Linked DNA regions of Homo sapiens: all the other regions are linked to region 2. The links come from fine-mapping of genetic effects on gene expression. A gene starts in region 2. Each other region holds a variant in brackets. All regions are shown on one strand. Distances are from middle to middle. Region 1 has its middle 4.8 kb from the start of DCAKD. Region 2 holds the start of PLCD3 (phospholipase C delta 3). Region 3 overlaps PLCD3 (phospholipase C delta 3).

The links. PIP is the estimated chance that this variant, and not a neighbour inherited with it, causes the effect.
Region 1: its variant is fine-mapped to the expression of PLCD3 in nasal epithelium (TOPMed, PIP 0.99).
Region 3: its variant is fine-mapped to the expression of PLCD3 in skeletal muscle (GTEx, PIP above 0.99). The same link has a PIP of 0.9 or more in esophagus muscle, gastroesophageal junction, sigmoid colon, skin, sun-exposed skin and thyroid.

What each region holds. Positions count from the first base shown.
Region 1 is chr17:45,055,077-45,057,828 of GRCh38, forward strand. It overlaps a transcript of DCAKD not described here. Among named protein-coding and RNA genes, the nearest start is that of DCAKD, 4.8 kb to the left of the region's middle. The variant T/A (reference allele first, on the strand shown) is at 1,404.
Region 2 is chr17:45,131,292-45,134,043 of GRCh38, forward strand. It overlaps PLCD3 (phospholipase C delta 3), which reads right to left and starts at 1,224. Exons shown (of 15, transcript NM_133373.5): 1 at 957-1,224. The coding sequence starts at 1,119. It also overlaps a transcript of ACBD4 not described here. RefSeq lists silencers at 1,028-1,157, 1,258-1,477 and an enhancer at 1,948-2,017.
Region 3 is chr17:45,110,044-45,112,795 of GRCh38, forward strand. PLCD3 (phospholipase C delta 3) reads right to left here. Exons shown (of 15, transcript NM_133373.5): 15 at 1-2,661. The coding sequence ends at 2,573. Among named protein-coding and RNA genes, the nearest start is that of MIR6784, 3.0 kb to the right of the region's middle. RefSeq lists an enhancer at 1,887-2,752. The variant C/G (reference allele first, on the strand shown) is at 1,480.

The DNA.
Region 1 (2,752 bases), 76 kb before region 2:
AAACTTGGGCTTTGGAGTTTCCATGTGATGCCATCAAGGGCTTTTTCAGCTCAAATATATGTCTTTCATGATTCAGGATGGCAATAAGAAACTTTGAGCTGGCTGTAGCTACTTACACAATCTCATTTTATCCTGAGAGTGGCCTGCATCTCAGTCACCTCTGTGTCCTTAGCATTTAGCATGATGCCTGGAATACAGTTCTGCTTCTCATTTTGTTTGATGAACAACCCTGAGTCCATTAGAGATGACTCCTTTGGCTCCTGGTTTTAAATTTATTTTCTGTACGTTTATTTATTTATTTATTTATTTATTTATTTTTGAGACAGGGTCTCACTCTGTTACCCAGGTTAGTGCAGTGGCACGATCTTGGCTCACTGTGACCTCTGCCTCCCAGGCTCAAGTGATCCTCCCATCTCAGCCTCCCACTGAATAGCTGGAACCACAGGCACACACTCCTCACTTTCTAAGCTCCAGTCCTAAGTCATATCATTCTCATTGCCATACCTCAAAAGCACCCAAGTCTCAGGCACCTGGACTTTCTACCTAGAAGGTCCACCCCAGTTTGTTTACTGTCCTGATGAACATTCAGCTAAGCCACCATGTCCCCCCAGGATCTCCTGCCTCTGGACAGCCTGTGCTCCCCACTTTCTTAGGCACTGTGCTAGAACTGTTCTACCCCTGACTCTCCAGTTCCTGCCATAGAGGCTGACAAGTCATCAGTGTTCCCGAGGTTGGAATAAATGAATCACAATCTATCTCATGGCTTCGTAGGTCCACCAGAAGAAAGGTTATATGTGGCCGGGCACAGTGGCTCACACCTGTACTCCCAGCACTTTGGGAGGCCAAGGCAGGGGATCACCTGAGGTCAGGAGTTTGAGACTAGCCTGGCCAACATGGTGAAACCCCTTCTCTACTAAAAATACAAAAAATTAGCCAGGCATGGTGGCTCGCACCTGTAATCCCAGCTACTCAGGAGGCTGAGGCAGGAGAATCGCTTGAACTCAGGAGGCAGAGGTTGCAGTGAGGAGAGATTGCACCATTGCACTCCAGCCTAGGCAAAAAGAGCAAAGCTCCGTCTCAAAAAAAAAAAAAAAAGAAGGTTATCTCTGACATGCTGGAAGTACAGCAAAGGCCTTGATCTGTGATGGACATCATGAAGAAAACTTTTCTTTGGTTATCATACCAGTAATGCTGACTTCCTGGGAAGGGAAATACTAATTAAGTGGGTATTAATTCTGTCCTAGACACTTTTAGGGCTCTCTATGTAAGTCTTATTTTACAGATAATGACATCAAAGCTCAGAGGTTAAGTGACTTGCCTAAGGTCATTCATTAAGTCAGAGGCAGAGCCAGGATTTAGAACCCAGGGAGTCACACTCTGCCTGCACTCTTTTTTATATATAT[T/A]TTTTTTTTCCCAAGACAGAGTCTTGCTCTGTCGCCCAGGTTGGAGTGCAATGGTGCGATCTCGGCTCACTGCAACCTCCACTTCCCGGGTTCAAGCAATTCTCCCTGCCTCAGCCTCCCGAGTAGCTGGGATTACAGGCGTCCACCACTGTGCCCAGCTAAATTTTGTATTTTTAGTAGAGACGGGGTTTCACCACGTTGGCCAGGCTGGTCTCAAACTCCTGACCTCAGGTGATCCGCCTGCCTTGGCCTCCCAAAGTGCTGGGATTATAGGCATGAGCCACCGTGCCTGGCCCTTTTTCCTTTGAGACAGAGCCTCGCTCTGTCACCCAGGCTGGAGTGCGGTGGCGTGATCTCCGCTCACTGCAAGCTCCGCCTCCCTGGTTTACACCGTTCTCCTGCCTCAGCCTACCAAGTAGCTGGGACTACAGACGCCCGCCACCACGTCTGGCTAATTTTTTGTATTTTCAGTAGAGACAGGGTTTCACCATGTTAGCCAGGATGGTCTCGATCCCCTGACCTCATGATCTGCCCGCCTTGGCCTCCCAAAGTACTGGGATTACAGGCGTGAGCCACTGCGCCTGGCCCTTTTTTCCTATTTATATAGAGACGGGGCCTTGCCATGTTGTCCGGGCTGGAGTGCAGTGGCATGATCCTGGGTTCCAGCGATCCTCCCACCTCAGCCTCCCAAGTAGCTAGAACCATAGGTGCATGCCACAATGCCACGCTAATTTTTGTATTTTTTTTAGAGACAGGGTCCTCTATGTTGCCCAGGCAGGTCTCACACTCCTGGGCTCAAGTGATCCACCCATCTCAGCCTCCCAAAGTGTTGGGATTACAGGCATGAGCCACCTCACCCAGCTATATTTCTGCATAACTCCATAAGGCAGAACCGGGCCAGCTTTTCACAAACCAAAATTGTTTCAAAGTGGAAAGCTCTCGGCTGGGCGCAGTGGCTCATGCCTGTAATCCCAGCACTTTGGGAGGCCGAGGCAGGCGGATTGCCTGAGCTCAGGAGTTGGAGACCAGCCTGGGCAACATGGTGAAACCCCGTCTCTACTAAAATACAAAAAATTAGCTGGGCATGGCGGTGTGTGCCTGTAATCCCAGCTACTCGGGAGGTTGAGGCAGGAGAACTGCTGGAATCCAGGAGGCAGAGGTTGCAGTGAGCCGAGATAGTGCCACTGCACTCCAGCCTGGGCAACAGAGTGCGACTCCATCTCAAAAAAAAAAAAAAAACAGTAATTCAGGCCAGGTGCAGTGTCTCACACCTGTAATCTCAGCACTTTGGGAGAGCGAGGTGGGCGGATCACCTGAGGTCAGGAGTTCGAGACCAGCCTGGCCAACGT
Region 2 (2,752 bases):
TTCCACACCTAGCCTCTCCATCACTGACTATTCTACCAATGGCAGGTCCAACGCAGCACTTCAGTGGCGCGGTCCTTTCCACGTCAGACAACATTCTCGCACACACCCTCTCATTCAAGCCCTCCACTGCCCTGCGGGTCCCACTTTTCCCAGACTCTGAGAGGGTACCAGGGCCCATGTGGTGGGGCACCACCGGGGTGCCAGTCACACTTTGCCCTTTGTTGGCTGTGTGGTCATAGGCAAATTCCTTGCCGTCTCTGAGTCAGTTTCCTCACTTGTGAAATGAGGATTCACCTCCCACCTAGGAAGTCGAGGAAGATTGCAAGACACCACCTGTGTAACCCACCCAGTGCCAGCTGCCTCTGTGATGTTCCAATGAGCCACAGTTACATTCCTTCTCCACGACTGACTTCCCCAAATCTGAGGTGAGAGCCTTGGCTGTCGGACGTAGGCTGTTAGACCAGTCCTGCCAGAGCAGTGTGGCTGTGGCCGCCTCTGTGGGGCCGCGGCTTGGAGGGCTGCTGTGGAGGCCAGCCTCTTCTGCGGAGGCCGACCGCAAACTCGCATCCTTCCTAAGGGCTGCCAAGACCCCGAGACACCCTGGCAGAACCTAGATACTGCTGGGGAGCCGGACGAGGGACACCCCAAGCCTCCCTCTCCCGCTCCATTCTCCTTGGAGACCCCACCAGCGCCCCGTGCCCGAATTCGCGCTTCAGACGCCCCGCGAGCGCCCCCTGGTGGGAAGCAAAGAACACCCTGGGCGCCCGGCTCGCCCCGGGACCCTCGGATGACCCCAGGTGCGACCCCCAGCTGGAGGGAGCTGGCCCTCCGCCCCTAGCCATAGCCTCCCAGCCCCGTGCAGCCTGGGGAATCCACGAACTGCTCCCTGGAGCGCCCCAGACTGGGCCTCTGGGAACGGTCCGCGCCCACCCCACCGCCCCTTGCCCGTCACTGACCCATCTTCTTCAGCGCCCGCAGCCCGGGCCTCTTGGTGCCGCCATCGGAGGGAGTCGGCGGGGACGGGAGAGCGACCGGCGCCGCGACTTGGGCTGCGACCTGGGCGGCCACCGGGGGCTCCTCGGGCGGGCGGCGGCAACGCCTCCAGCGGCCGCACAGCATGGCTTGGCGGGGGGCCGGGGCCGGGCCCGGGGTCTGCACGCGGGGACAGGGCAGCGGGGCGCCGCTCTGGCCCGGCCCCGGCTCTGAGCGAGGCGGCGAGCGAAGAAACTTAGCGGCGCGGGAGGGAGTCGGAGGAGGCAGCAGGAGGTGGGGCGGGGCGGGGCGGGAAGGGAAGGGGGCGGGGCCGGGGCGGTGCGAGGGCGGGGCCAGGCGGTGGCCTGGAAGCCCGGAGCCTCAGCGCTCGCCCCTGCTCGTGAGTCCGTCTCCCCTTAGTCCGGGCGAGCCTCTGATCTTGGCCGCAAGGGTGACTAGAGCCCCCATGCTGCGGGGCTGGGGGTGGGAGCCGGCACCGGGGACGAGGGCCATCCTCTGGCACAGACACCCTCTCCTTCCCGGGGGCCCTGACTCGAGGCTGACGCAGGACCCCCTCCTCCTTCCCTTCCGCGTCCCCGTCGCGCCGCAGGCCTCAGCAGGGAACCAGAGCCGGGACAGGACGCAGGGCCGGGAGCGAAGGCAGAACCCCGGGAGCTGAGCCGCTCGGGGCAGCGCGAACCCGAAGGGATGGGCATGGGGGTGGGGAGGTTGGCAGTGACGTCATAGGATTAACCTCCCTGTGCCAGGCCAGGTGCTGCCCCCTCGGAGAGCCACAGTCTCGGAGCTGACGGACCTGGGGAGCGTGAGGCGGAGCCGAGCCTGGAGTCCCCAGCAACTGGTTCTGGGTTCGAGGCTTGGACAGGCCGGCACCCCAGCCCGGCACCCGCGGTGTAGTTGTCCGCGACGTCAACCCGTGGGTGGGCATCCGTGTGCAGGTTCTGGTGGCCGAGTCGGGTGTGCACTTACTATTTATATGCAAGCACCAGAGTGCGTGCGCGAAGTGGGGGACGTCCAGGTGGCAGCGTTTCTGCGGCCGGTGGCCTGGGTCCGGCAGAGACATGGGCGCACACCGCCACTTTGCGGCGGCCAGCGGCGTGGCATCCTACAGAGAGGCTAGTGCTCAGGGCCTGATTTGCCACCTACTTGCCCTGCTCTACCCCATCCTCAGATCTCCCAGGCCCAGAGATTCTGCACACTGGCTTGGGTCCCTACGCCACTCTGGGGTCCTGAATTTTCTTTTTTTTTTTTTTTTTTTTTTTTTTTTTGAGACGGAGTCTCGCTCCGTCGCCCAGGCTGGAGTGCAGTGGCGGGATCTCGGCTCACTGCAAGCTCCGCCTCCCGGGTTCACGCCATTCTCCTGCCTCAGCCTCCCAAGTAGCTGGGACTACAGGCGCCCGCCACTACGCCCGGCTAATTTTTTGTATTTTTAGTAGAGACGGGGTTTCACCGTTTTAGCCGGGATGGTCTCGATCTCCTGACCTCGTGATCCGCCCGCCTCGGCCTCCCAAAGTGCTGGGATTACAGGCGTGAGCCACCGCGCCCGGCCCTGAATTTTCTTCTTGATTATCGTATTCGCCTTTGTGCTTTTGATCCTGCCGTTCCTTCCTCCAGAAACAACCTTCCTTATTCTCCTGGTTTACCCTTTTGTTATTCTTGTTGTTGGATAGGCTAAGTCTACATTTCTTTTAATTGTTATGGACACTTAATAGTTGCAGAGAATTATGGAGAGGCATGTAATGTTTTGATACAGGTATAAAAT
Region 3 (2,752 bases), 21 kb before region 2:
CTCTAGCCTAGGCGACAGAGCGAGACTCCATCTCAAAAAAACAAACAAAAAAAAAACCCTGTGATTTCTCCCTTGCTTCTGCTTCCCAGTTCACTTCCTTAAAGACTCTTGCCCTTTTGGCTGGGTGCAGTGGCTCACGCCTGTAATCCCAGCACTTTGGGAGGTCAAGGCGGGTGGATCACCTGAGGTCAGGAGTTCGAGACCAGCCTGGCCAACATGGTGAAACCCCGTCTCTACTAAAAATACAAAAATTAGCTGGGTATGGTGGCGGGCGCCTGTAATCCCAGCTACTCCGGAGGCTGAGGCAAGAGAATCGCTTGAACCCGGGAGGCAGAGGTTGCAGTGAGCCGAGATCACGCCATCGCACTCCATCCTGGGGGACGAGCAAGACTTTGTCTCAAAAGAAAAAAAAAAAAGACTCTTGCCCTTTCAAGGCAGCCTTCTCAGTATTGGGCCCTCATCCTAGCCTTCACCCCTTCCTCTTGGTACCAGATACGAAACCAGAGAAGCCAAGCAGGATGGGCACTCAGCCCTGGGTCTGGTGCTCACCTGACCCAGACCCCCCAGCCAGCCCCTGGCCAGACCTGGCTCTGCAGGGGCTGGGCAATGCTAATGGCTCTTCATTTGCTAAAACTGGACTTAGCCTCACTGTGCCTCCCATCCTGAGGCTGCAGTTTGGCAGCCTGACCCTCTGACAGCCCTGAGTGCCAGATGCCCGGGCTGCCTGGCCCGGCCCGCCTGGCTCGGCCCATTCCTTCTGGGCCCTTTTGATTCTGATTATCCTCTTTCAGACACACAAATTAACCAGAGCCAAACGCCACTCCCAGCATGAAGGAGCGGGGGACACTGCCACTTTCTGCATTAGTTCTTGGAGTTGCTAGAAGGTGGAGTCTGCCCCAGCCCTGTGTTTTGGTTTCTGTGGGGCTTGGGGCCAGTTCAAGGCCTATCCCAGCCCAGTTCCAGGCCACCCTCTGGGGACTAATGTCAAGTTCTGCCCTTGTCCAGTGCCGGCACTGTTGGCTGGCAGAACCTAAAACACCAGGCCTCCACATTTCACCCTGCTGGCAGGGGCGGGTGCAGGATTTTCTCCAGATTCTGTCGCCTAGTGTCCAGTGCGCTCTCCTGGCATTTCTATAGAGGCGGCCCAAGCAGCGTTTCCAGCCTTTGTGTAAAAGGCTGGCTGGCTGGAGGAAGGGAAGCCCGTGTCCTTGGGATTTGCCCTACTGAGCAGACAGGGGCCTTGAGCCCAGCCAAGCCTGGAGAGTGGCAGTCTGAGGGTCCCTCAGACTCCTGTCTCCTCCTCATTCAAGGCCCCTCTGTGTATGTGTGAGTGTGTGTGTGTGTGTGTGTGTGTGTGTGTTGTGGGGAGGCGCTGACCTGCTGAATTGGCATCCTCAGACAGTCTTGTGATACTCGCAGCAGCTTTAAGCCAGGAGCAGGGATCGGGCTATTTAGAGCTGTGGCATCTCCTGCTGCCAC[C/G]CCCTGGCTGTCTTAGCCAAGTCCATGCCCTGTTGAGGGGAGAGGCCCAAGAAACTCATCCAGCCCTGTCCCTCCTCATGGGCCTGTGGGGGTGGCAGCATAGAGGTGCTCAGGGAGTGGCGGTGGTGAAATCAACGTGCTTCTTTATTTTTTAAACTAGATAGGCTCATTCTACTGTCTTCTCCAGGGCTCTTCTATGAAACAGTTACAAACCTACGGCCAGGCCAGGCAGTGGCTCACACCTGTAATCCCAGCACTTTGGAATGCTGGGGCAGGAGGATCACTTGAGGTCAGGAGCTCGAGACCAGCCTGGGCAACATAGGGAGACCCCCGCCCCCCCCGCCATCTCTACATAAAATTTAAACATTAGCCAGGTTTGGTGGCCTGTGCCTGTAGTCCCAGCTACTCAGGAGGCTGAGATGGGAGGATCGCTTGAGCCTGGGAGTTCAAAGCTGCAGTGAGCCATGATTGCAACATTGCACTCCAGCCTGGGCGACGGAGCGAGACCCTGTCTCAAAAAATAAAAACCAAAACCTACTGCCAGTTTCCCCAGGGCTTCATGCCTCAGCGCTCCCTTCTTGCTTTGAGAAGGGAAGGGGAGCTCAGGTTCCGGAGCTGGAGGGAGGAGTCCAGGAAGGCCTGGGGTAAAGGAGGGCTTAGGGGCTAAGCTCGGGGTCGGGGCCAAGTGGAGTGACTGCGCTCCTCTGGGGGAAGGAGGCTGGGATGGCCCACGGGAGGACAGAGGGGAACTGAGGGCCCACAAGTGTCCTGCTCCCCAAGTCTCCTGGCAGCAACAGGCTTGCTCCTCATAAGTCACAATGAGGGGTGGGCTGAGGACAAGAGGAGCTGGGGCCATCTCAGGGCCCCAGGGTTGGAGCTCACTGAAGTCACATGAACACCTTTCTGTTCTTCAGGAGGGGCCCAGGCAGCCCTCAGCACCCAGGTGAGACCAGCGCCTGGTGAATGGGCTGAGTGGGCCAAGTGGGTGGGCTGGGGGGCTGGTACTCCCACCACCTGACTCCAGAGGAGGAGAGGGCTCTGCAGGGGATGTGGACTGGCACTCGCAGAACCCCAAGGCGAGTGAGGTGGGCCCTCAGGAGCGCTGGATGCGGATTTGGATGAAGAGCGTGGCTGGTGACAGTGAGGCCCCGTCCTTGGAAAGCAGGTGTATGTGGCGGTACCCTGTAGGGAGGACAGCCAGGCCTCAGGTCCTCTGTGCACCCTGGGGGTCTGGCCCAGCCCGGGCCTGCTTCAGGGCAGGAAATTCGAGGCA